Homo sapiens: one gene and its partners. The protein of the gene in region 1 purifies or fractionates together with the protein of each later gene. This does not show direct contact. Each region holds a gene or a part of one and is shown in the gene's direction. Other genes may lie near its edges.

Evidence for each region.
Region 2: the proteins of CFAP97 (region 1) and BEND3 purify together in Homo sapiens (affinity purification with mass spectrometry; one large-scale study listed by BioGRID and IntAct). This does not show direct contact.
Region 3: the proteins of CFAP97 (region 1) and INF2 purify together in Homo sapiens (affinity purification with mass spectrometry; one large-scale study listed by BioGRID and IntAct). This does not show direct contact.
Region 4: the proteins of CFAP97 (region 1) and ANAPC7 purify together in Homo sapiens (affinity purification with mass spectrometry; one large-scale study listed by BioGRID and IntAct). This does not show direct contact.
Region 5: the proteins of CFAP97 (region 1) and CRTC3 purify together in Homo sapiens (affinity purification with mass spectrometry; one large-scale study listed by BioGRID and IntAct). This does not show direct contact.
Region 6: the proteins of CFAP97 (region 1) and TPM4 purify together in Homo sapiens (affinity purification with mass spectrometry; one large-scale study listed by BioGRID and IntAct). This does not show direct contact.

What each region holds. Positions count from the first base shown.
Region 1 is NC_000004.12:185,162,265-185,166,175, reverse strand, and holds part of CFAP97 (cilia- and flagella-associated protein 97), read left to right. Parts: intron 1-1,996; coding exon 1,997-2,147; intron 2,148-3,250; coding exon 3,251-3,378; 3' UTR 3,379-3,911.
Region 2 is NC_000006.12:107,067,263-107,070,672, reverse strand, and holds part of BEND3 (BEN domain-containing protein 3), read left to right. Parts: coding exon 1-1,969; 3' UTR 1,970-3,410. UniProt on the Homo sapiens protein: Transcriptional repressor which associates with the NoRC (nucleolar remodeling complex) complex and plays a key role in repressing rDNA transcription.
Region 3 is NC_000014.9:104,710,056-104,714,048, forward strand, and holds part of INF2 (inverted formin-2), read left to right. Parts: intron 1-32; coding exon 33-133; intron 134-881; coding exon 882-952; intron 953-1,023; coding exon 1,024-1,131; intron 1,132-1,573; coding exon 1,574-1,644; intron 1,645-2,377; coding exon 2,378-2,498; intron 2,499-2,772; coding exon 2,773-2,937; intron 2,938-3,151; coding exon 3,152-3,254; intron 3,255-3,389; coding exon 3,390-3,551; intron 3,552-3,993.
Region 4 is NC_000012.12:110,386,419-110,390,411, reverse strand, and holds part of ANAPC7 (anaphase-promoting complex subunit 7), read left to right. Parts: intron 1-1,788; coding exon 1,789-1,900; intron 1,901-2,519; coding exon 2,520-2,673; intron 2,674-3,942; coding exon 3,943-3,993. UniProt on the Homo sapiens protein: Component of the anaphase promoting complex/cyclosome (APC/C), a cell cycle-regulated E3 ubiquitin ligase that controls progression through mitosis and the G1 phase of the cell cycle.
Region 5 is NC_000015.10:90,640,930-90,644,922, forward strand, and holds part of CRTC3 (CREB-regulated transcription coactivator 3), read left to right. Parts: intron 1-112; exon of another isoform or gene 113-167; coding exon 168-270; exon of another isoform or gene 271-328; intron 329-1,002; coding exon 1,003-1,211; 3' UTR 1,212-3,993. UniProt on the Homo sapiens protein: Transcriptional coactivator for CREB1 which activates transcription through both consensus and variant cAMP response element (CRE) sites.
Region 6 is NC_000019.10:16,100,315-16,103,815, forward strand, and holds the end of TPM4 (tropomyosin alpha-4 chain), read left to right. Parts: intron 1-949; coding exon 950-1,032; 3' UTR 1,033-2,688; downstream 2,689-3,501. UniProt on the Homo sapiens protein: Binds to actin filaments in muscle and non-muscle cells. Plays a central role, in association with the troponin complex, in the calcium dependent regulation of vertebrate striated muscle contraction.

The sequences.
Region 1 (3,911 bases):
GAAATAAAAACTCAGCTCAGCAAAGGGAACCACTAATACTAGTTGGGTAATTTGAGTAGGTGACTCTTTTCTAGCTTTTGAAGGCCAAAAATTAGGAAGGGGCACTTCACGCAGAAGGAATAGCATGCAGGGAGGCAGTAAAGATGTTCTCAGTGGTTCTGTCCGGTTCTTCATGTGTTTTGCACCTCTGCTGTTTGCCTCCAAGCCTCCTTTTGTTTCTATAACAACCTCCTCCTCTCCCTTTTCTAAGTGGCCCTTCCCCTGGATATCTTGGCTTATTCTTCCACCATCTGTTCCTTCTTTGGAATTGCTCAGGAACTCAGCATGGAAGGGCAGGGGGTGAAACTGATAAAACACCAAGTGGAAGAAAAGTTATGGGAGTCGGTGGTGATGTTTCACAACAGTGTGGGTGTACAAAATGCCACAGAACTGTATGCTTAGAAGTGGTTAAAATGTGGTTTCATTTTACCACAGTAAAAGGAAGAAAGAAGAAAAGATTGTACAGAGAAAACTTGTCCTATGACTGAATTCATGAGTCTGATTTTTTAGTGTGAAACTTAGTGCAGGTCAGTACTCCCTTTGCAAATAAGATCAGCTTCCTTCAGAGAAAGTTTGAATGAGTAAAGAAAAGAATAAAACACAATCATGGATCAATTCCCCAAGCTGTTTGGTCTACCTCGGTATTTCTTTCTCAACAATGCCTACGAAAAGCCAACAGGATAAACTCTTTCACCTTTTAAGAAATAGTTATAAACAAAATTTATAACATTCTGCATGAGTCTCTGTTACTGAATTGTAAAAAAAATTACCATGTTATTGGATACTGTGTTGCCTTGGCCAATTGGTATATATATCCTTTTTTAAAATTTATTAAAATATTATTAAAATGGAGATAGCGTTTCGCCATGTTGTCCAGGCTGGTCTGGAACTCCTGAACTCAAGCAGGTCATCCACCCGCCCCGGGCTCCCCAAAGTGCTGGGACTACAGGTGTGAGCCACTGTGCCCAGGCTACATATCTTTTTAAAAACTTTATATTCTATACTAATTGGTTTTCAGACTTCTTAACAGCAAAAGCTTTTTTCTCCAAATTAAATGTTATGCAGAATCTTTAGTATATAAAACAGACAATACAGAAAGCATAGCTGGGCTAGTAGAAACTAGCAGTGGAAGACCCGAGGGCCCTCCCTGCTGGCCTTTCCCCAGTGGCCTACAAGCCCTTGAGGCACTACTGCAAAGGAACAGGGTGAAAGGCACTGCTCTGCAATGTACATGTGGAGAATCTGTAGTAGCTTCCATATGTGTGTGCTCATTCCTAGGGTCTAACACTAGGTTCTTAGCATTATAACTCCTATTACATCATGTCTATGAGAAAATCAGGTTTAGTGTATTTTATTTCAACTTACAGCACCTTTCCTAAGACTAACCTGGCACAAAAGAATTAGGCCTCTAGCAAGCTTGTCTAACCTACCTTATTTTGTTGTTTGTTGTTGTTGTTCTGTTTTAGGCTTTTAGCAGCCTGAAGCCATGGTTTTTAGTTTCTGTCTCTAGTGATATGCAGAAAAGAGAGATGAGGAAGGGGCTTTACTGGCCCAACCAGAAACAGAAACTAAGAACCCATGACTGTATTCTCTCCATTGGACACCTCTGGATGAATTGTTATATCACAGTGGTTTGGTTAGCTGTGGGATAGGCAAAAACCCTTGGATTTTTATGAAATTATATTATTTGAAATGTTTTTCACATGGTATGTCGAGAATGATTTAAGATCTTTTGGCGGGATGTGGTGGGTGGCACCTGTAATACCAGCTACTTGAGAGGCTGAGATGGGAGGATCCTTTAAGCCCAGGAGTTCCAGGCCAGCCTGAGTGACAGAGTAAGATCTTGTCTCTTAAAAAAAAAAAGAAAGAAAGTGAATGTCAGGCTCTAGAATGTATTGCCTTGTTAAAAATGATTGCTGTTTAACCTTGCCTTTCAAATTAATTGTCTTTATTGAAGGCTTTATTGAAAAGGCTTGAGGCCGTGAAACCAACAGTTGGTATGAAACGTTCAGAACAACTGATGGACTATCATCGCAATATGGGCTATCTCAACTCATCACCATTGTCAAGACGGGCCAGATCCACTCTTGGCCAATATAGCCCATTAAGTAAGCATTTTGGAAATTATTTTATACTTATTTGTATCTTGTATCCTTTTTTTAAAAAAACGTAACATGTTATTATGATAGAGTTTTAAATGCCAACTCTGGAATGCGTTCTGTTATTTCCCACTGTCATGTTTTGTTTTATTTGTATTAGTTCACTTAATTTCAGGTTTCATTTACAGCATATAATGACAGGAAGGAAACCAGGAGATAAAACAATCAAAAATATCAGTAGGTTCTTAGGTAATTGAGGAAGGACTGTTAATTTCAAAGTTTATTGAAGGAAGAAATACATAGGTGTGCTGTTTAAAAGCTGCTAAAACATTCTCCTTAGGTAGTTAAGAATCATTGCTAATAGCCTCCAGCCCTTATATGTGCTTTTTCTTACTTACTGGATAACTAAAACAAAAATTAGCAAGCTGATCACACAACAAGCCTTACCGCTTTACAGTAAGCAGTAAGGCTTGTTGTGTGATCAGTTACAGACCTAGCCAGCTGTGTGCCCCAGAGAGTACAGGAATGGAGTGACCATTTAGTGCTGGAGTGTGCAACATCTAGAAAGGCCAGTGTCCTTTACAGAAGTCTCTGCTGTACTTCATGTATGCATTCTAAACCATATAATAAATAGAAGGGAATACCAAACCGCCCGATGCCACAACTTCCCAGCGCCCGCCCTCGTGAGTCTTCAACTCTCAAGACTAGTAGTTCCATTTATTCCTTCTCCAAACCTTGCTTCCGTGGTATAGTGACTAAGAAAGGGTCTTATTTTAGTAACTCATACTTAGCATTGTCCCTAAATGTAGTAAGTTATTTGTTGATTAGATATATAAATGGTTATACAAAGTCATTTTTTTCACGTGAATTATTTGAGAAGCTTTTAAAAATGTTTGTTTTCCACGCCAATCCAGTGAATCAAAATCCCCTGGTGTGGCATCTGGATATGTTTGTTATTATATTTTTTAACTTCCACAGGGAATTCTGAAGTGCATCCTAGTCGAGAATCATAGCATTAGACTATTAGACACACATAGAATGTGGAAGAAAAACTAGTCTGGACTTCAAGTGAGGAGAAGTTTCTCAGATATTTCTTCTTTTTATATTTTCAGGAGCTTCCAGGACATCCAGTGCTACGAGTGGTCTCAGTTGTAGGAGTGAGCGATCAGCGGTTGACCCCTCCAGTGGCCACCCTCGAAGAAGACCTAAACCCCCTAATGTCCGTACAGCTTGGTTATAAAACACTTTTTTACTTTAAACATTGTTCACACAACTTTTCTTGAAGTGCTCGTGCATATTCCTATAATTCTCTGTGTAAACATCTAGAATACCGTTTTAGCAATTGAAGGTGTACAACAGTGAGTTGTAATGTATTGTTATTCAGTGCAAAATTATTGTCAAAAAACGATTTAATGTAAAAAGTGTTTCCTGAGGATGTATTTATATGAGATGTATGTGTTCTTAATAGAGAAATAGTGGTATGCATGTGTATCTTCTAATTATTCAGTTGTCATGCTGTCAAAATAGTAGTGATAGTATCATTGCATGTCGTACCCAAGATGGTCACTATAGTTTTCAATTTGTGTTATTTTCATTTCTTTATAAGTGTTATACCATGAGCTCAGCTCCTAAATTTGGCTGGCTTTGTTTTTCATTTGCTTTAGAACTTATGTGGCATGACATAGCTCGATTGTATGAGATTTAACACTTATTATGAAACAAATCTTGAAATTTGTTTTCACTGGTAGAGCTGATCTAGATTTGATGAGCAGA
Region 2 (3,410 bases), on another chromosome or scaffold:
GCCACAGAAGCGGGACTGTGGCAGCACCGGGGCAGGCACTGACAACGACCCCAACATCTACTTCCTGATCCAGAAGATGTTCTACATGCTGAACACCCTCACGTCCAACATGTCCCAGCTGCACAGCAAGGTGGACCTGCTCTCCCTTGAGGTGAGCCGCATCAAGAAGCAGGTGAGCCCCACTGAGATGGTGGCCAAATTCCAGCCGCCCCCTGAGTACCAGCTCACAGCCGCAGAGCTCAAGCAGATCGTGGACCAGAGCCTGTCAGGGGGGGACCTGGCCTGCCGCTTGCTGGTGCAGCTCTTCCCCGAGCTCTTCAGCGACGTGGACTTCTCCCGGGGCTGCAGTGCCTGTGGCTTTGCGGCCAAGCGCAAGCTGGAGTCGCTGCACCTGCAGCTCATCCGCAACTATGTGGAGGTCTACTACCCCTCGGTGAAGGACACGGCTGTGTGGCAGGCCGAGTGCCTGCCCCAGCTGAACGACTTCTTCAGCCGCTTCTGGGCCCAGCGGGAAATGGAGGACAGCCAGCCCAGCGGCCAGGTCGCCAGCTTCTTTGAGGCAGAGCAGGTGGACCCCGGCCACTTCCTGGACAACAAAGACCAGGAGGAGGCCCTGTCTCTTGACCGGAGCAGCACCATCGCCTCAGACCACGTGGTGGACACGCAGGACCTCACTGAGTTCCTGGACGAAGCCTCCTCACCAGGCGAGTTTGCCGTCTTCCTCCTCCACCGGCTCTTCCCCGAGCTCTTCGACCACCGCAAGCTGGGTGAACAGTACAGCTGCTACGGGGACGGTGGAAAGCAGGAGCTGGACCCGCAGCGGCTGCAGATCATCCGCAACTACACGGAGATCTACTTCCCTGACATGCAGGAGGAGGAGGCCTGGCTGCAGCAGTGTGCCCAGCGCATCAACGACGAGCTCGAGGGCCTGGGGCTGGACGCGGGCAGTGAAGGCGACCCCCCGCGTGATGACTGCTACGACTCCTCCAGTCTGCCCGACGACATCTCAGTGGTCAAGGTGGAGGACAGCTTCGAGGGCGAGCGGCCGGGTCGCCGCTCCAAGAAGATCTGGCTGGTGCCCATCGACTTCGACAAGTTAGAGATCCCCCAGCCTGACTTCGAGGTGCCCGGTGCCGACTGCCTGCTCAGCAAGGAGCAGCTACGCAGCATCTACGAGAGCAGCCTGTCCATCGGCAACTTCGCCTCGCGCCTGCTGGTGCACCTGTTCCCCGAGCTCTTCACGCACGAGAACCTGCGCAAGCAGTACAACTGCAGCGGCTCCCTGGGCAAGAAGCAGCTGGACCCCTCCCGCATCAAGCTCATCCGCCACTACGTGCAGCTGCTCTACCCACGCGCCAAAAACGACCGCGTCTGGACCCTGGAGTTCGTGGGCAAACTGGATGAGCGCTGCCGGCGCCGGGACACGGAGCAAAGGCGCTCCTACCAGCAGCAGCGCAAGGTCCACGTGCCGGGCCCTGAGTGCAGAGACTTGACCAGCTATGCAATCAACCCCGAGAGGTTCCGGGAGGAGTTTGAGGGGCCCCCACTGCCCCCCGAGAGGAGCAGCAAGGACTTTTGCAAGATCCCCTTGGACGAGCTGGTGGTCCCCTCGCCTGACTTCCCGGTGCCTTCTCCCTACCTGCTGTCTGACAAGGAGGTGCGTGAGATCGTGCAGCAGAGCCTCTCCGTGGGCAACTTTGCCGCCCGGCTCCTCGTCCGCCTGTTTCCCGAACTCTTCACCGCCGAGAACCTCCGGCTGCAGTACAACCATTCCGGGGCTTGCAACAAGAAGCAACTGGACCCCACGCGGCTGCGGCTCATCCGCCACTACGTGGAAGCCGTCTACCCGGTGGAGAAGATGGAGGAGGTGTGGCACTACGAATGTATCCCCAGCATCGATGAGAGGTGCCGCCGCCCCAACAGGAAAAAATGCGACATCCTCAAGAAAGCAAAGAAAGTGGAGAAGTGAAGGCCCGTGACCTGCCCAGAGATTCGGGGTCACCAGAGGCTGAGCGATGGGCACCCTTGGGACTGAGCAATACTTGGGAGCACGCCTATGGCATCCACAGACAGGCACCTTATGTCCGTGGGGAGTGGCTTACTACATTTGCACACGTAAACACCCACCCAACCGCAAGAAAGAAGCCTTGAGTTTGGTCTCTTGTACTTACAACTTCTGTCCTATGTGCCCCGGCGGGGCAGCCTGAGTGTGGGGAGAGCAAGCTGTGAGGGCAGGGACCAGAGGTTAGGGGTCCTCTCTCCCTGGTTGTGCCCTCCCCAGCCCCTCACAGCTTATAATGCAAACCCAGCAACTCTCTTGCCCCTCTTCCCATATTTTACATCTTCCATTTTGACCCATTTTTTTTTAATTAAAAAGAAACCCTTAAAAAAAATCATTGGGCTCTTTGGGGGCCATTTTACTTAGAAAAAAATCTCTTTAAAAGTGCCATGTTCGTGCACAGTGGCTAATCATAGCTTCAGGTGGCATGGATACTGATTTTACTGACCTTGTTTTTTACATCTGATTTTGGAAGAGTCAAGATGCCCCTTGGATGGCAGTAGAGGGGATGGAATAGTGCGAAGTCCTTTACGACCACATGCAAGTTTTCCCTTCTGCTCTGGTGCCAGGGAAGGCTTCCGTTCAGCTTGGCCTGTCCTTCAGGCGCGTTGGTAGAATGTTGTGTCACTCTTTAGGCGAGAACACTGGATGATGATGATATGAATGTAGACAGCCGTGGAAACACGTTCGCAGTGTCTCCATCTGAGCCGTGTCCTTCCGCTGCCCCCATTCCTTCTCCATACATGGTTGCTGGTTGGAGGGAGTGGACATGTTTCCTTGGAAAACAGTGCAGGGGCTTTTGGCTTCTTGTTAGATTTAAGGGTGGGCCTCTTTGAGCTCACCATGAACTGTTTACTTTTCCGTGTGTGTATTTGTACAAAATCCAGGTTCCGGGAGCTTTGTGGTGACTTCCCCAGACCTCAGTGTTAGCTACTCCAGGCAGTACTACATCCTCATTCCTCAGGGCGGGCCCAGGTCTGGGCCCCTCTTGGGGATACCATGCATTGGAAGGACACAGGCCATTTTAGATGGGGTACACATGTCCCTTCCCAGGGTCCACTCAGAACTTTCCTCTTGGACTCTCTAGAAGGTCCTGCTGTCCTATACCTGGCCACCCCCTGCCTTGGGGGGCACATGTCTTCGTTCCCTCCCGACTGGGAATGTCAGGCTCCTGCAGGCCAGCTGCATGCTCTCCAGGAGCACCAACTGGGAAATCCCCTGACAGGTAAAGTCCTTTAAAATGATACTTTTACCTACCTAACTCTGGGGGCCAAATGCTTAAGAGGGAAAGGAAACAGTCGAATGCAAACAGTGTGTCATACCAGAGTCCTGGAAAATTTATTGAATCACA
Region 3 (3,993 bases), on another chromosome or scaffold:
AGGCCACTGATCCCTGTCTGTGCCATCCCCAGCTACCAGCTGCGAATCGAGTGCATGCTGCTGTGTGAGGGCGCGGCCGCCGTGCTGGACATGGTGCGGCCCAAGGCCCAGCTGGTGCTGGCTGCCTGCGAAAGTGAGTGGGGCCAAGCGGGGCACGTGTGCAGGAGGGACAGGCCTCCGAACCGGGGCGGGAGGGCTGCTCGGGGCCCCTGCTACTGCCAGTATCATAATGGCTGCTAAGAGCACCTAAGGGTGCCAGCCTTCACCACCACTCCGGAAACCACCCTGCTGCCACCACCTCGGTGCACACACCTACTGGACGCACAGACACACGCATGCCCACCGCCACTCGGGCACGTGCACACACACAAGCACACTGCCACTCTCCGGCACGCGCACACACAAGCACACCGCCACTCAGGCACGTGCACACACGCATGCACACCGCCACTCGGGCACGTGCACACACACAAGCCCACAAGCACAGTCACACACATGCACACAGGACACACAGACACACGTACACACCCCCCCAACACACACACCCTCACATACATGTACAGACATAAGTGCACACACACGGGCACCATCTCTGAAAGGGGAATCCATGGGGACCTGCCACAGCCACTGGGCAGGGAGAGGGACAGGTACGGACCAGTGAGGCACAGCTCACGTCTGTCAGGCACACTGTAGGTGTCCACTCCCGTCGGTGGAGGGTTTGCAGCCCCCAGGCCCTGTCCTGTGATCCTTCCGGTGCTGGGCTGAGCCTGGGGAGGAGCCAGGGAGTGCAGGGGCACTGGCAAGCAGGACCACACCCCACCGCCAGGGCATCTGGGGGCTCCGAACCAAGAGCCCCTCTCCAGCCCTGGCTGCCCCTGCAGGCCTGCTCACCAGCCGCCAGCTGCCCATCTTCTGCCAGCTGATCCTGAGAATTGGGAACTTCCTCAACTACGTAAGTCAGGGGCAGCTCCCCATCCCACCTGGTGCCAGGGGCTGGTGAGACTCACTCCCTGCCCCTCCCAGGGCAGCCACACCGGTGACGCCGACGGCTTCAAGATCAGCACATTGCTGAAGCTCACGGAGACCAAGTCCCAGCAGAACCGCGTGACGCTGCTGCACCACGTGCTGGAGGTGGGCCGTGGTGGCGGGGGCATAATGGGAGGGCTTCAAGTCCCCCCGGACCTGGGGTGTAGAGGCGTAGAGGCCATACCCCCATGCCCACCACTCAGGCCGCCGGTCTCCCTGTCTCAGGGCTCCGTCTAGAGCCAGCAGCCTCAGTCAGAGCCACGCCCCCACCCCTCCCAGCACCCCTTCCTTCCTGCAGCACTGGCTCCCCTGCACGAGCCTTGTCCCTCCCCAGGATACCTGTCCCTGATCTGGGGGACAGTCCCTAGGAAAAGCAGAAACATCACAAAGTCATAGCCAGGCCCAAGGGAAAGATTTGAGGGTCTGGAGTACTGGGGGTTTTCTGGACCTTAATTGCTAAGGGTTAGAGCTGGGGGAGTGGGAACAGGGTCATCCCCAGGTGGAGAGTATGACCACAGTGGATCTCACTGGACGTGTCCCATTGCAGGAAGCGGAAAAGAGCCACCCCGACCTCCTGCAGCTGCCCCGGGACCTGGAACAGCCCTCGCAAGCAGCAGGGTAGGTAGCTCCTGCCAGCCCGCCCACCTCAGCCAGGTGGGGGCCTGACTTCTGTCCCCAGGCAGTGAGGTGGCTGCCCGCCAGGGCTGGGTCTCACAGCTGCAGCGCAGCCCCGGCGCCACGGAGCCCTGCCCAATAGAACACTTCCCTTTTGGGACAGGACCGGGTCTGCCGTGGCCTATCCCCTTCTGACTTAAGCGAGGAAACAGGCCTAGAGTGGGCAAGGGCTGGCCAGGTCAGGGTCACACCACGGGCAGGTCTAATACAGCCCCTTCACAAGGTGGACCTTCACGACAGCCGTGAGCAGGCTCGGGCCTCCCTCATTGTATAGATGAGGAAACGGAGGCCCAGGAAAGCAGTGTCACCTCCTGGGTCACACAACCCAGGCAGGAGGGCAGCCTGGGCCACCCCACTACACAGTCCGGGCCCCTAGCACGGAGTTCTTCCCGGGCTCCACCTGCCCTGGAAGGTTCTCTGGCTCAGGAGCTGCTCAGCCTTGGGGAGAACTAGGCAAGCAGGACAGGCTGACCGTTAGGGTCCCCGCCCAGATGCTCACAGGGGGCTGAGGGTCAGCTGGAACAGGCACTCAACCCCAACACTGCACGTGCAGCCTCAGAGTACAGCCTGCAGGGTGCACAGTGGGGTGCCGGGGGGTGCAGGGGAGGGGCTCCCCTGTCCCAGCGAGGCTGACGTCAGCCGTTGCTGTCTCTGCCCGGCCCTCCTCACCTTTCAGGATCAACCTGGAGATCATCCGCTCAGAGGCCAGCTCCAACCTGAAGAAGCTTCTGGAGACCGAGCGGAAGGTGTCTGCCTCCGTGGCCGAGGTCCAGGAGCAGTACACCGAGCGCCTCCAGGCAAGTGGGCACCTGGGCCTGGGGCTGGCGGGAGAGGCTGCCCTGATAGAGTGAGCTGGGCGAGTGGCTGTGCTGTCTCCTGGCTCCAGGGTGGATCCTGGGGCCCGAGTTTCCCCAGGTGTGCATGGTCAGGGCACAGGCCCCTGCTCCTTGTCAGAGACCACCGTCCTCAGGGCCTGTCCCTGTGGCCGTCACCCTCCCGCAACTCAGGGCCTCACCCCGGGTGGTGCCCGCGCGGGGCTCTCACGGGACTGTCACGTGCCCTTGCCCCCAGGCCAGCATCTCGGCCTTCCGGGCACTGGATGAGCTGTTTGAGGCCATCGAGCAGAAGCAACGGGAGCTGGCCGACTACCTGTGTGAGGACGCCCAGCAGCTGTCCCTGGAGGACACGTTCAGCACCATGAAGGCTTTCCGGGACCTTTTCCTCCGCGCCCTGAAGGTGGGGCAGCCCGGCGGGACACAGCCTGTCTGGCTAGAGTGGGGTCCCGAGGCCCCTGGCCTTCCTCCGGCAGGATGGGCAGAGGCACCTTTCGTCGGGCCGACACAGCCATGTGGGCCCTGCGCTGCTGCGGCTCAGGGAGGGGGACGCCCAGGCCCATGGAGCCCCTGAGGGATGCCACGCTGGGGTGACGGGGCCACATCTGCCAGTGCAGGAGAACAAGGACCGGAAGGAGCAGGCGGCGAAGGCAGAGAGGAGGAAGCAGCAGCTGGCGGAGGAGGAGGCGCGGCGGCCTCGGGGAGAGGACGGGAAGCCTGGTGAGGCTGGGCCGGCTGGGCGGGGAGGGGGTGACTCTGGGATCCTTGTCTGTGCTCCAGCCTCCCCACCACCCCCAGCCCTCTAGGTGGGCTCCAGGGTCCCATGCCGCTCTCTGAGTGCCCCACGCTCCTCAGTCAGGAAGGGGCCCGGGAAGCAGGAGGAGGTGTGTGTCATCGATGCCCTGCTGGCTGACATCAGGAAGGGCTTCCAGCTGCGGAAGACAGCCCGGGGCCGCGGGGACACCGACGGGGGCAGCAAGGCAGCCTCCATGGATCCCCCAAGAGCCACAGAGCCTGGTAAGACCCTCTCCCACTGCCTCCTCATGGTCCCCTTGCCACTGTCCCTACCCTGTGCCTCCAGGAAGTCCTCCTGACTTCACTGGAAAGCCCTCTCCTCTCCCTGGGCCACCCTGGAGGCCCCTAAGACTGGGGACAGCCGAGGGGACAGGTGGTGGCCGCTCAGCCCTCATCCCTCCCTCCACTCACTCCAGCTCCTCCACTGTAACCGCAGGCCCTGCCCTCAGTGCTGAAGCAGCAGTCCAGCCCGCTGGGCTCCAGAGAGATGAGGCCAGGCCCACTGACCGATGCCCTTGGGCTCAGAGGGTGCTAGAGGTGGCAGGAAAGGCAGGCGGCAAGGCCCTGGTGGGAGGACCCCATTCCTGGGGTGGCTGCCTCAGGGTGCTGGGAATGGCATGGCCCAGTGTCCCCCACCCTGCCACAGTGTAGACAGACCAAGGAC
Region 4 (3,993 bases), on another chromosome or scaffold:
ATCTAGCAAATACTGTTGTGTTTAAAATCTACTAATTTTGCCAGACACGGTGGCTCACGCCTGTAATCCCAGCACTTTGGGAGGCCGAGGTGGTTGGATCACCTGAGGTCAGGAGTTCAAGACCAGCCTGGCCAACATGGTGAAACACCATCTCTACTTAAAATACAAAAAAAAAATTAGCTGGGCGTGGTGGCGGGTGCCTGTAATCCCAGCTACTCAGGAGGCTGAGGCAGGAGAATCACTTGAACCCAGGAGGCAGAGGTTGCAGTGAGCTGAGATCGTGCCATCGCACTCTAGCCTGGGTGACAAGCGTGAAACTCCGTCTCAAAAAAAAAAATCTAATTTTAAATTGGAATATTGTGTTTATCTGTGTACTATTAGGAAGGTCTTTTATCACTTGCCTATAACTTCTACATTCTTAGGAACTTTTAGATTTTCTGGCTTTTTTTTTGTTTTTGTGGGTTTTTTTTGTTGTTTTTTGAGACGGAGTCTCGCTCTGTCTCCCAGTCTGGAGTGCAGTGGCACGATCTCGGCTCACTGCAAGCTCTGCCTTCCGGGTTCACGTCATTCTCCTTCCTCAGCCTCCTGAGTAGCTGGGACTACAGGCGCCCGCCACCACGCCCAGCTAATTTTTTGTATTTTTTAGTAGAGACGGGGTTTCACTGTGTTAGCCGGGATGGTCTCAATCTCCTGACCTCGTAATCCACCCACCTCGGCCTCCCAAAGTGCTGGGATTACAGGCATGAGCCACTGCGCCCGGCCAGAACTTTTAGATTTTCTCATTTCCCAGTTGCATGTTAGGTAGGATTATTTTAATTTAGCTTTACAAAGTTACATATTTAAATTACGCTAAAATGCAGCTGTCTGCACTCACTGGATTTAAATAGTGTAGCTGATTTTTGTAGCATTACTTTAGTGAGTTAGTACCTACGGGCCAAAGCCTTAAGTGTTAGAAAGGCTAGAGTCTAGCCACAAGTCGAATTGTCAAAGAAAAGCCAAGTATTATACTTCTTTATCTGTCTTTCTGTATCATTTCCTTATTAGGAAAAACTGAGCTGATCCTTCTTAACTAGCTATGTCAAGAGTTTCTCACTTTCTTATGTGAGATAGTTCATCTTCTGTTTTAAGATCAAGAAAGAATCAAGTTAACTAGCGTTCTCTACCATTTCTTAAATGAATGTTATTCCAGTTTCCAGAGGGCAGCGTCTTTTGTTCAGATATTACTGGGCCTTGTGGGAAGGTAATGTGACTTTCCTCTTAGGGAAGGCAGGAGCTAGGGAAAGGAAGGGTAGTAATTTCTTTTCTTTTCTTTTTTTTTTTTTTTTTTTTTAAGATGGAGTCTCACTCTGTAGCCCAGGCTGGAGTGCAGTGGCGTGATGTCGGTTCACTGCAAGCTCCGCCTCCCGGTTTCACACCATTCTCCTGCCTCAGCCTCCCGAGTAGCTGGGACTACAGGCTCCCGCCACCACGCCCAGCTAATTTTTTTGTATTTTTTAGTAGAGACGGGGTTTCACTGTGTTAGCCGGGATGGTCTCAATCTCCTGACCTCGTGATCCACCCACCTCGGCCTCCCAAAGTGCTGGGATTACAGGCGTGAGCCACTGCACCTGGCCAATTTCTTCTTTCTTTTGAAGAATGGGGTCAGTCTGCCTTTATTTGCACAGGGTTGTGGGTAGATTTTCCAGTAAAAAGTAAATAACTGGTAATGAAAATTAGGACTTTTTCATGGTGAGAGATTTTCTTTGCAATATACGCTTATTTTGCTATCTGTTATTTGTGTTTGTACAGATAAACATGATGCTGGCAAACCTGTACAAGAAGGCTGGTCAGGAGCGCCCTTCAGTCACCAGCTATAAGGAGGTGCTGAGGCAGTGCCCATTAGCCCTTGATGCCATTCTAGGTAGAGATATTTCCTGCCTGTTTTCATGGCATGTTTACTGTCAAAGATAGTAGTTCTCAATCTTGCCTGTACATTAGAATAACTTTATTTTTTTTAAAAGTTCCCCTGAAGAGAGTGATTTAGTAGGATTCCTGTTGTCACATATTCAATCAAGAAATACTTAATTATGGTTTTTGGCCGGGCATGGTGGCTTACACCTGTAATTCTAGCACCTTGGGAGGCTGAGGTGGGTGGATTGCCTGAGCTCAGCAGGTCGAGACCAGCCTGGGCAACATGGCACAACCCCGTCTCTACTAAAAATACAAAAATTAGCCAGGCATGGTGGCGCGTGCCTGTAGTCCCAGCTTCTCGGAAGGCTGGGGCATGAGTATCGCTTGAACCCAGGAGGCAGAGGTTGCAGTGAGCTGAGATTGTGCCACTGCATTCCAGCCCAGGGGGACAGAACAAGACACTGTCTCAAAAAGAAAAGAAATACTAAATTATGGTTTTTCTCTCATGCATCGCTCAGAATAGGGAAGCAGTTGCCTTTTAGCCAAGGGAAGATGTAGCCCGTTGCTCCTTGCATGTGGAAGAGAGATATCGTGCCTTACTTTCTTTCTTCTGCTTTCTGTTGGTTTAGGCTTGTTGTCCCTTTCTGTAAAAGGGGCAGAGGTGGCATCCATGACAATGAATGTGATCCAAACCGTGCCTAACTTGGACTGGCTCTCTGTGTGGATCAAAGCGTATGCTTTTGTGCACACTGGTGACAACTCAAGAGCAATCAGTACCATCTGGTGAGAGCCACAAAGTTAATTCAGTGTTCTTGAGGCCCTTTGCTTGTCTGGAAGTCTGATGTATCTGAAGTAGCAAAAAGAAAAATGAGATGCTTTGCTGTTGGTGCTGCAGCCAGTCTCTGGGATGTGTTAGTCTTTTATACTGAATGGTCCCAAATGTAATCATGTAATCATCTCTGTTGGAGACCTGTAAAAATAGAAATCTGACTGAGTTTAGCTCTGTGCCTGCACAGGTAGTAACCCTTGCAAAGCAAAGCAGGCTACCTTGGTGTGTCATTTTTTTTTTTTTTTTTGAGACAAGGTCGGTCTCTCTCTCTCTCTCTCTCTCTCTCTCTCTCTCTCTCTCTCTCTCTCTGTCTCTCTCTCTCTCTGTCTCTCTCTCTCTGTCTCTCTCTCTCTCTGCCTCTCTCTCTCTCTCTGTCTCTCTGTCTCTCTCTCTCTCTCTCTCTCTGTCTCTCTCTCTCTCTCTCTCTCTCTCTCTCTGTCTCTCTGTCTCTCTGTCTCTCTCTCTCTCTCTCTCTCTCCCAGGCTAGAGTGCAGTGGCGCAGTCACAGCTCAGTGTAGCCTTGACCTGTCAATCTCCCGGGCTCAAACCATCCTCCTGCTCAGCCTCCTGAGTATCTGGGACTACAGGCGCATGCCACCACACCCAGCTAATTTTTGTATGTTTTTGTAGAGATGGGATTTCACCATGTTGCCCAAGCTGGTCTTGAATTCCTGGGCTCAAGTGATTCTCCCACGTGGGCCTCCCAAAGTGCTGGGATTATAGACGTGAGCCACCATGCCTGGCCTTGGTGTATCATTCTTCAGCCTGGAAGAAAATCATTTTGCACTCACCAGAAGCTTGGTTTATTGCAGTGTCTAACCTAGCTTGCCTGCTTAGGACTAGGGATTTTCTTTATATTCAGATAAAGTTCAAGGACAAGAAGAGACTTGGGCTTGTGTTATGCAAAGTCGTTTACTTGAGTAATAAATAGGTGTCACTTGTGAATGACATTACCTTTAACACCATGTAGCGTATGTTGTGTTCTGAAGAACTGCAACCACAGAGTTATTTGTTGGTACTGAGAGACTTCTGCTTTATTCTTTGTTTTTGCTATCCTGTCCTATATAACTTTTTTTAAAGTCATAAGCTTAAAGTTTTTTATTACGAAGAATTTTATATTTATGCAAAAGAAAATAGTATCTGTATGACCAATCATCCAGATTCAGCAACTAAGAGGATTTATAATAGATTTAAAGGTTCAATGTTTAATAAATATCTTAAAGTTCACTAGAGAAAAAATCCTTATTGCGAGATAACGTGGACCTATTGGGAAG
Region 5 (3,993 bases), on another chromosome or scaffold:
ATATTGTGCATGCATTACCATAAGAGCAAAGCACTCTGGGATCCTGGAAAGAAGGGAATATGGATTAGTTTGCAAGTCAGGTTTTGCTCTGGGAGCACATTGCAATACTCACTTCCTCCTTGGAAACAGAGGTGTGGCCTTCCTCACATGACCTTCGATGCTTCCAGGTGCCTCTGGTGCAACAAGGTTCCCGAGAACTGCAGGACTCTTTTCATTTGAGACCAAGCCCGTATTCCAACTGCGGGAGTCTCCCGAACACCATCCTGCCAGGTGAGCGAGCTATCCCTCAGCTTCTTTACTGCTTTTATGTTGTTGTGTGTTCAGGAACCTTCATAAGAGAGTTTAAACAACATAATATTATATAAAGCAAAAAGTTAACGTTCCCTGGGTCGACTTGACTTTTTGAGATGCAGGTGTCCAGCCTCAGAGACCGTGACACAGGGCGGTGGGCCTGGTAGTCAAAGCCTTTTCTGAAAGATTTCATCTGGCCCAGTGCGGTGGCTCACGCCTGTAATCCCAGCACTTTGGGAGGCCGAGGTGGGCGGATCATCAGGTCAGGAGATCGAGACCATTCTGGCTAACACAGCGAAACCCCGTCTCTACTAAAAAATACAAAAAAAATTAGCTGGGCATGGCGGCGGGCGCCTGTGGTCTCAGCTACTCGGGAGGCTGAGGCAGAATGGCACCAACCCAGGAGGTGGAGCTTGCAGTGAGCCGAGATTGTGCCACTGTACTCCAGCCTGGGCAACAGTCTCCAAAAAAAAAAAAAGATTTCATCTTAGGTGACTGATGACTGTTCAAAAGGAAAAAACCTGCAAAAATTGGGAGTTGTGCAACTGACTGACAAGAATGTAGATTCCAGGGCAAGAACTGTGGGCCTGGGGGTGGTCAGGATGTGTGGGATAGCAGTTTAGGGGACTGTCATCAGCTGGGTTTGCTTAGTAGCCTGGAGCCTTCGCGCCTCCTAACCGCACTGTTTTCCCCTCTGGCCACTCCTTTCAGAAGACTCCAGCACCAGCCTGTTCAAAGACCTCAACAGTGCGCTGGCAGGCCTGCCTGAGGTCAGCCTGAACGTGGACACTCCATTTCCACTGGAAGAGGAGCTGCAGATTGAACCCCTGAGCCTGGACGGACTCAACATGTTAAGTGACTCCAGCATGGGCCTGCTGGACCCCTCTGTTGAAGAGACGTTTCGAGCTGACAGACTGTGAACAGAAGGCAGTGGAACAGAAGAATGTTTTTCTGCAACAGCCAAAATAGAATGGAATAGAATGAAGCCAGCTGATACCACGGGCTTTCGTTATCTTGACATAGAAGGAAGCAATGCCACGGCTCCAGGGTTTCAGATGAGATCCCATCTCAGACACTGTGGCTTCCTCCAGATCACACAGCTTTGTACTGCCTCTCCCGCCTGTGGCCAAAGTCGTGTTGCAGCAGGCAGGCTGCTTGGAGCTTCCCATGAACTGGAAAGCTCACCTCCACTGCATCTTTTTACTGGCCATCCAGTCAGCCGATGTGTAAGAGTAGGAAATACTGTGTCACTGGAGGCCTCCGTAGCATTGTGTAGTGTGCTCAGAACCACTGATCTCCGTCCGCACCGAAGGCGGGCCCGGAGTGGGAGGCTCGGCCTGGGGCGGCGGCACCGGAGAGGGCACCTCGATGCCTGCTCTGACCTGACCCAGAGGGCGAGGCCCTCCAGCGGGGGACATTCCCAGGCTGAGTGGACCCCACGGCTCTCTCCCACGCCTGGATTACGACATGAAGTTTTTACCACAAGCCCGAGGGCAGGCTTGAGTTAGGCAGACTGAAGGCTAATTTTCATTTTCTCCCAGCTGGTTTCTGCTGCTTCAGAAAAGTACACCTTTTCCTTATGGACCAGAGGAAGAGGAAGACCATTTTATCAGTCACTGAAAAGAGTCCCCTGGCACTGATGAGCCTGAAGAGAACTGTGCTCCTCCTCGGGGGCTGGGGAAGGAAGACAGGGACTGCAGGTGTCTCATACTCAGTGGCCTCCAGACAAACTCCAGACAAGCACAGACCTCCCCACTAAGAGCAGCCAGAGGGAGCTGGTGAGGCCCTAACCCCACCCACCGAGCAACTGAGCTTCCCCATCCCTCCCCAGAGCTGTGTCTCTGTGGGCTGGGAGTCTAATGTCACCCCCCTAGACCGTAAGCTCCTTGAGGGCAGGGACAGTGCCTTATCATTGTTGAACCCGTAGCACCTAACACGTGCGTGGCAGCACAGTCGTGTGCTGGAGTGAGTGCTGCAGAACCGTGCGTGCAGCGCATGATGAATGAGTGCGTCCGCCATGCCGTAAGGCAGGCTCACCTGTAGCTATCCCCTTCCCTGCCAGATCTTCTCAGAGCTTTAGCTTTTCTAGCACTCGTGCCTATGGTGAAGCATGCACTTTAATATGCTTTTAACACTAGGTGACCAAATCACAGTGAAGCCGGGCACTGCATTCTCCTTGGGCTGTGCTCCACGCGGGTGGGTGGGAGCTGTCTTCTGAGTACATCCGGAAGGGCTGAGCAGGTGAGTGCCCTGAGCATCCTGGCTGGGCCCCACCCAGGAAGATCTTCCTTCTCAGATCCACGTTTGGCTCTAAATTGCTTCAAGTAGAGATTCATTCTTTGAGGTTGAAAAAATAGTTTATAGTAAAACGAAGGCCTAATTCATGGAAGCATCATTAGTCATCAATACCTTCTCATAAAATAGATGGGCCAGATTTCCACCACCGCCTGCCTCCTCTAACTTGGGTGATGCCAGTAGGTTTGAAGGGGGCAGAGCACTGCAGGGGGAGGGGGGGGTCTAGGCTGTGAGAGGACAGGGTGGAGAGGAGGAGAACCCTGAAGGAGAGACGGAAGATGCCAGGACCTTTGCTTGGACAGCCATTGCCCTTCCAGGAGACCCTGGAGTGTACTGAGGGTTGCTGGACTGTTCCACCCAGAGGAGCAAGGCTGTACAATGAGGGTCTGAATCTGGCACACCTGTCCCTTATGTAAAAGGAGTCGTGGTCACAAGACCCTGGGCTGGTTAGCCTCTCCCGACCTCATTCCATTTCTATCTTCTGACCTTGCCTCTCATCTTTAAAATAACCCTCATGGGGTGCCCCTCCACCTTCCTCTGGAATCCAAGTATTCCTGTTTCACATTTGCCCCAAATCTTTGCTGTGGAATTGGGAAATCAAACCAGAGTCCTCCTCGCCTGATTTCCAGCTCAGGAAGGGCCTGCTGGCCTGCCCTGTTCCCAGTTACACTTTCAGATCCCTTTGTGCTCAAGATCTCAGAGGGGGTGGCTTTTTGTTAAAGAGCCTTCAGTCGCAATGCTACCCAGCACCCCATGTGCCAAAAGAAACCAGCTCCTGTGTCAAAGGGCTTCCAAACCTGATCTCACTCTCAACAGGCGATGGTGCTGATGTTTCAAGAATTGTGTTTTTATAAAACAGAGGTCTCAGCATAGTCACTCTTCACATAGTGCCTTACCCATGGGTATCGTCATATCCGGGTCCCAGTTCAGTTTGTCTGCACAGCAGCCACCCTGCCTGGCAACAGAGACCCCAAGACCTACACAGTGAACCCTACTGCCCCAAAGGCGTTCTCCAGGTGACTTGTGAAAACAGACCTCCGGGGAAGTGATTTATTGGGGGTGTACACTGGGGGCAATATGGTTTAGCACTGAATTCAATTTGTCCTTAGGTCTATGAGTGAGTCCGATCTTTTCTTGTGAAAGGTTTTGGGCATCGTACAACCCACTCTGCCTAGAAGGTGTGGAGGACTCACCACGGGCAGGGTCGCCCTGGCCCACAGCACGTGAGCCTGCACTCACTGCGGCCTTTGTAACAAAACCAGTTGTGGTCCTCAGCATTTGAAGCAGCTGCATACTTCAGAGTAAACTATTTTTCATTATTTAGTTTTGTCACAAGAAATCGACCATTGTACTACTCTCACTTACAGCAGTTAAACAGCATAGAACTAAAAACCTGTCTGCATTTCC
Region 6 (3,501 bases), on another chromosome or scaffold:
ATAAGCAATGAATAATTTTTTAATCATAAGTATATCTCTTGCATAAGTACATCTCATGCAACATTTGGGATATACTTACACTAAAATATTATTTGTGGTTTATCTGAAATTCAATTTAACTGGGCGCCCTGCATTTTATCTTACAACTGTGACTCCCAAATTTGGTGCTTGTTCCTTAGTATTCTGTGATGTTCTGCTGTAATTAAAAATACAAAGTACTGGACAGGCATGGTGGCTATAACCCACCTGTATTCCCAGCACTTTGGGAGGCTGAGCAGATGGGTTCCTTGAGCCCAGGAGCTCAAGACCAGCCTGGGTAACATGGTGAGACCCTGTCTCTAGAAAAAATGCAAAAATTGGCCAGGTGGTGGCATGCACCTGCAGTCCCAGCTATGCGGGAGGCTGAGGTGGGAGGATCACCTGAGCCCAGGGAGGTCAAGGCTACGGTGATTCGTGATTACGCCACTGCACTTCAGCCTGGACAACAGAGTGAGACCCTGTCTCAAAAAAAAAGTACTTTCTCTCTTGTGACTTTCACCCTGGCAGTTTCAGGTTTAGAAATCTTTGGGGGGGTGCTGGGCATGGTGGCTCACACCTGTAATCCCAGCACTTTAGGAGGCCAAGGTGGGTGGATCACTTGAGGTCAAGAGCTCGAGACCAGCCTGGCTAACATGGTGAAACCCCATCTCTACTAAAAATACAAAAATTAGCCGGGTGGTGGTGGCACGCGTCTGTAATCCCAGCTACTCGGGAGGCTGAGGCAGGAGAATTGCTTGAGCCTGGCAGGTGAAGGTTGCAGTGAGCCAAGATCGCGCCACTGCACTCCAGCCTGGGTGACAGAATGAGACCCTGTCTCAAGAAGAAGAAAAAAAAACAAATCTTTTTTTTTCTTTCATTTAACAAAGACGCTTATTAATTTATCTTTCCCCATACTCTTAATCCTCACCAGAGAAACTTGCCCAGGCCAAAGAAGAGAACGTGGGCTTACATCAGACACTGGATCAGACACTAAACGAACTTAACTGTATATAAGCAAAACAGAAGAGTCTTGTTCCAACAGAAACTCTGGAGCTCCGTGGGTCTTTCTCTTCTCTTGTAAGAAGTTCCTTTTGTTATTGCCATCTTCGCTTTGCTGGAAATGTCAAGCAAATTATGAATACATGACCAAATATTTTGTATCGGAGAAGCTTTGAGCACCAGTTAAATCTCATTCCTTCCCTTTTTTTTTCAAATGGCACCAGCTTTTTCAGCTCTCTTATTTTTTCCTTAAGTAGCATTTATTCCTAAGGTAGGCAGGGTATTTCCTAGTAAGCATACTTTCTTAAGACGGAGGCCATTTGGTTCCTGGGAGAATAGGCAGCCCCACACTTTGAAGAATACAGACCCCAGTATCTAGTCGTGGATATAATTAAAACGCTGAAGACCATAACCTTTTGGGTCAACTGTTGGTCAAACTATAGGAGAGACCAGGGACCATCACATGGGTAGGGATTTTCCATCCAGAGCCAATAAAAGGACTGGTGGGGGCCGGGGGTGGCTATTGTGGGAAGTCATAACCCACAGATAGATCAACCTAAGAATCCTGGCCCTTCTCCACTCTCCACCATGCAGGACAAACATCTTCTCAAGCAGTCAACGTAGAATGCTTGGGAAATAGTCATAATTACCCACATATAGTAATTAATAGATGGTAATTAATTGATCCTTGATGTGATGTTCTTTTGCATATTTCCTTCATTCTAAAGTTGTTCCCTGGCCGGGAGCGTTGGCTTTCGCCTGTAATCCCAACACTTTGGGAGGCCAGGACAGATCACTTGAGGTCAGGAGTTCGAGACCAGCCCAGCCAACATGGCGAAACCATGTCTCTACTAAAAATACAAAAATTATGGTGACGCCTGCCTGTAGTCCCAGCTACTCGGGAGGCTGAGGCAGGAGGATCGCTTGAACCCAGGAAGTGGAGACTGCAGTGAGCCGATATCGCACCACAGCGCTCCAGCCTGGTCGACAGAGTGAGACTCCATCTCAAGAAAAAATAAAAATAAAGTTGTTCTCTGAAGAGCAAATGTCTCATTCCAGTAATGACCCACTCAGCAGGAATATGGTGGAGTTCAGTCCAATTCAGGTCAGCCATATCCAAAAGACCACAAGTCATTACTAAGTTGAGCAAAAGAGTTTTTATCTATTAGCAGAAAGGGCCTCTCTGGCAGCAGAGATTAAAAACTGGCCCAACTTCATTTCCATACTTCAGGGAACAGCAAATTGAGGATTTACTTATCTAGGACTTGAATTCCTTCTTTGGGACCAAGTTAATAAAAGACCAAGAAACTCCTGATTAAACTGGATAATGAAGGATTCTGTAGACAGGGCTGCACGTATCGGCTTTGTTTGACTTCTCTTTTCTCAGTTAACATCTCAGAGCTAGAACATTCCACATTCCCCAGCAGCGTGTGGGGGCTGACTAAAGTTTACAATTCCAACTAAAAATCACCCTGCTTCTGGCTTATCTGAATCCCTTACCCACCCCACCCCACCACCCTACTCCTATTTATTCAGCACCACACTACCCAGGAAATACACTAGCAAATTGTGCAATGGAATAAAATCCACACTTTAGATTCTTGCAACTGTATCATATGTAATAGTATCACTTTTTCTACATTTTGGTCAAATAAATTTTTACATAAACTACAATTTGCGTGAATTTTAGAATGTGTGGGGGTACACAGAGCATTTTGGTTCAACAAATGTTAAAGGGATGGAAAGGGAAAATAACCAGAGCCAAGAATGTAGACAAGGTTATCTATTTGCTTTATACTGTGACTTCATGATACAAGGATATTACAGTCTCATTGCAGGCGAGAGCACTCAGCCTCGGTCACTCGAAAACTCCTGGCCTTCCTTATCCCCTACGCTGCCTAAGCCAGGCTGTGAAGAATGAGTAGGATTTTAAGAGATAAAAGCAGGGAAAATCATCTCTGTTGCCTGAGTTAGGAAGATCTGCCTAGCTAAGGCTGAGTTACACATACAAAGGAAAGCAGACCAGCATGGGCACCATAGTGAGACCCCGTCTACAAACAATAACAAAAATTTGGCCAGGTACAGTGGCCAAATTACACCTGTAATCCCAGCACTTTGGGAGGCCGAGGCTGGCGGACCGCTTAGGGCCAGGAGTTCAGGACCAGCCTGGCCAACATTGTGAAACCCCATCTCTACTAAAAACACAAAAATGAGCTGGGCATGGTGGTGCACACCTATAATCCCAGCTACCCGGGAGGCGGAGGTTGCAGTGAGCCGAGATCACGCCACTGCACTCCAGCCCCGGTGACAGAGCGGGACTCTGTCTCAAACACACACACACAAACTAGTGGGGTGTGGTGGCACATGCCTATAAGTCCCAGCTACTCGAGAGGCTGAGGAAGAAGGATCGCTTGAGCCCAGGAGGCAGAGGATGCAGTGAGCTATGATTGGCCTGTGCACTCCAGCCTGGGGGACCGTCTCTGA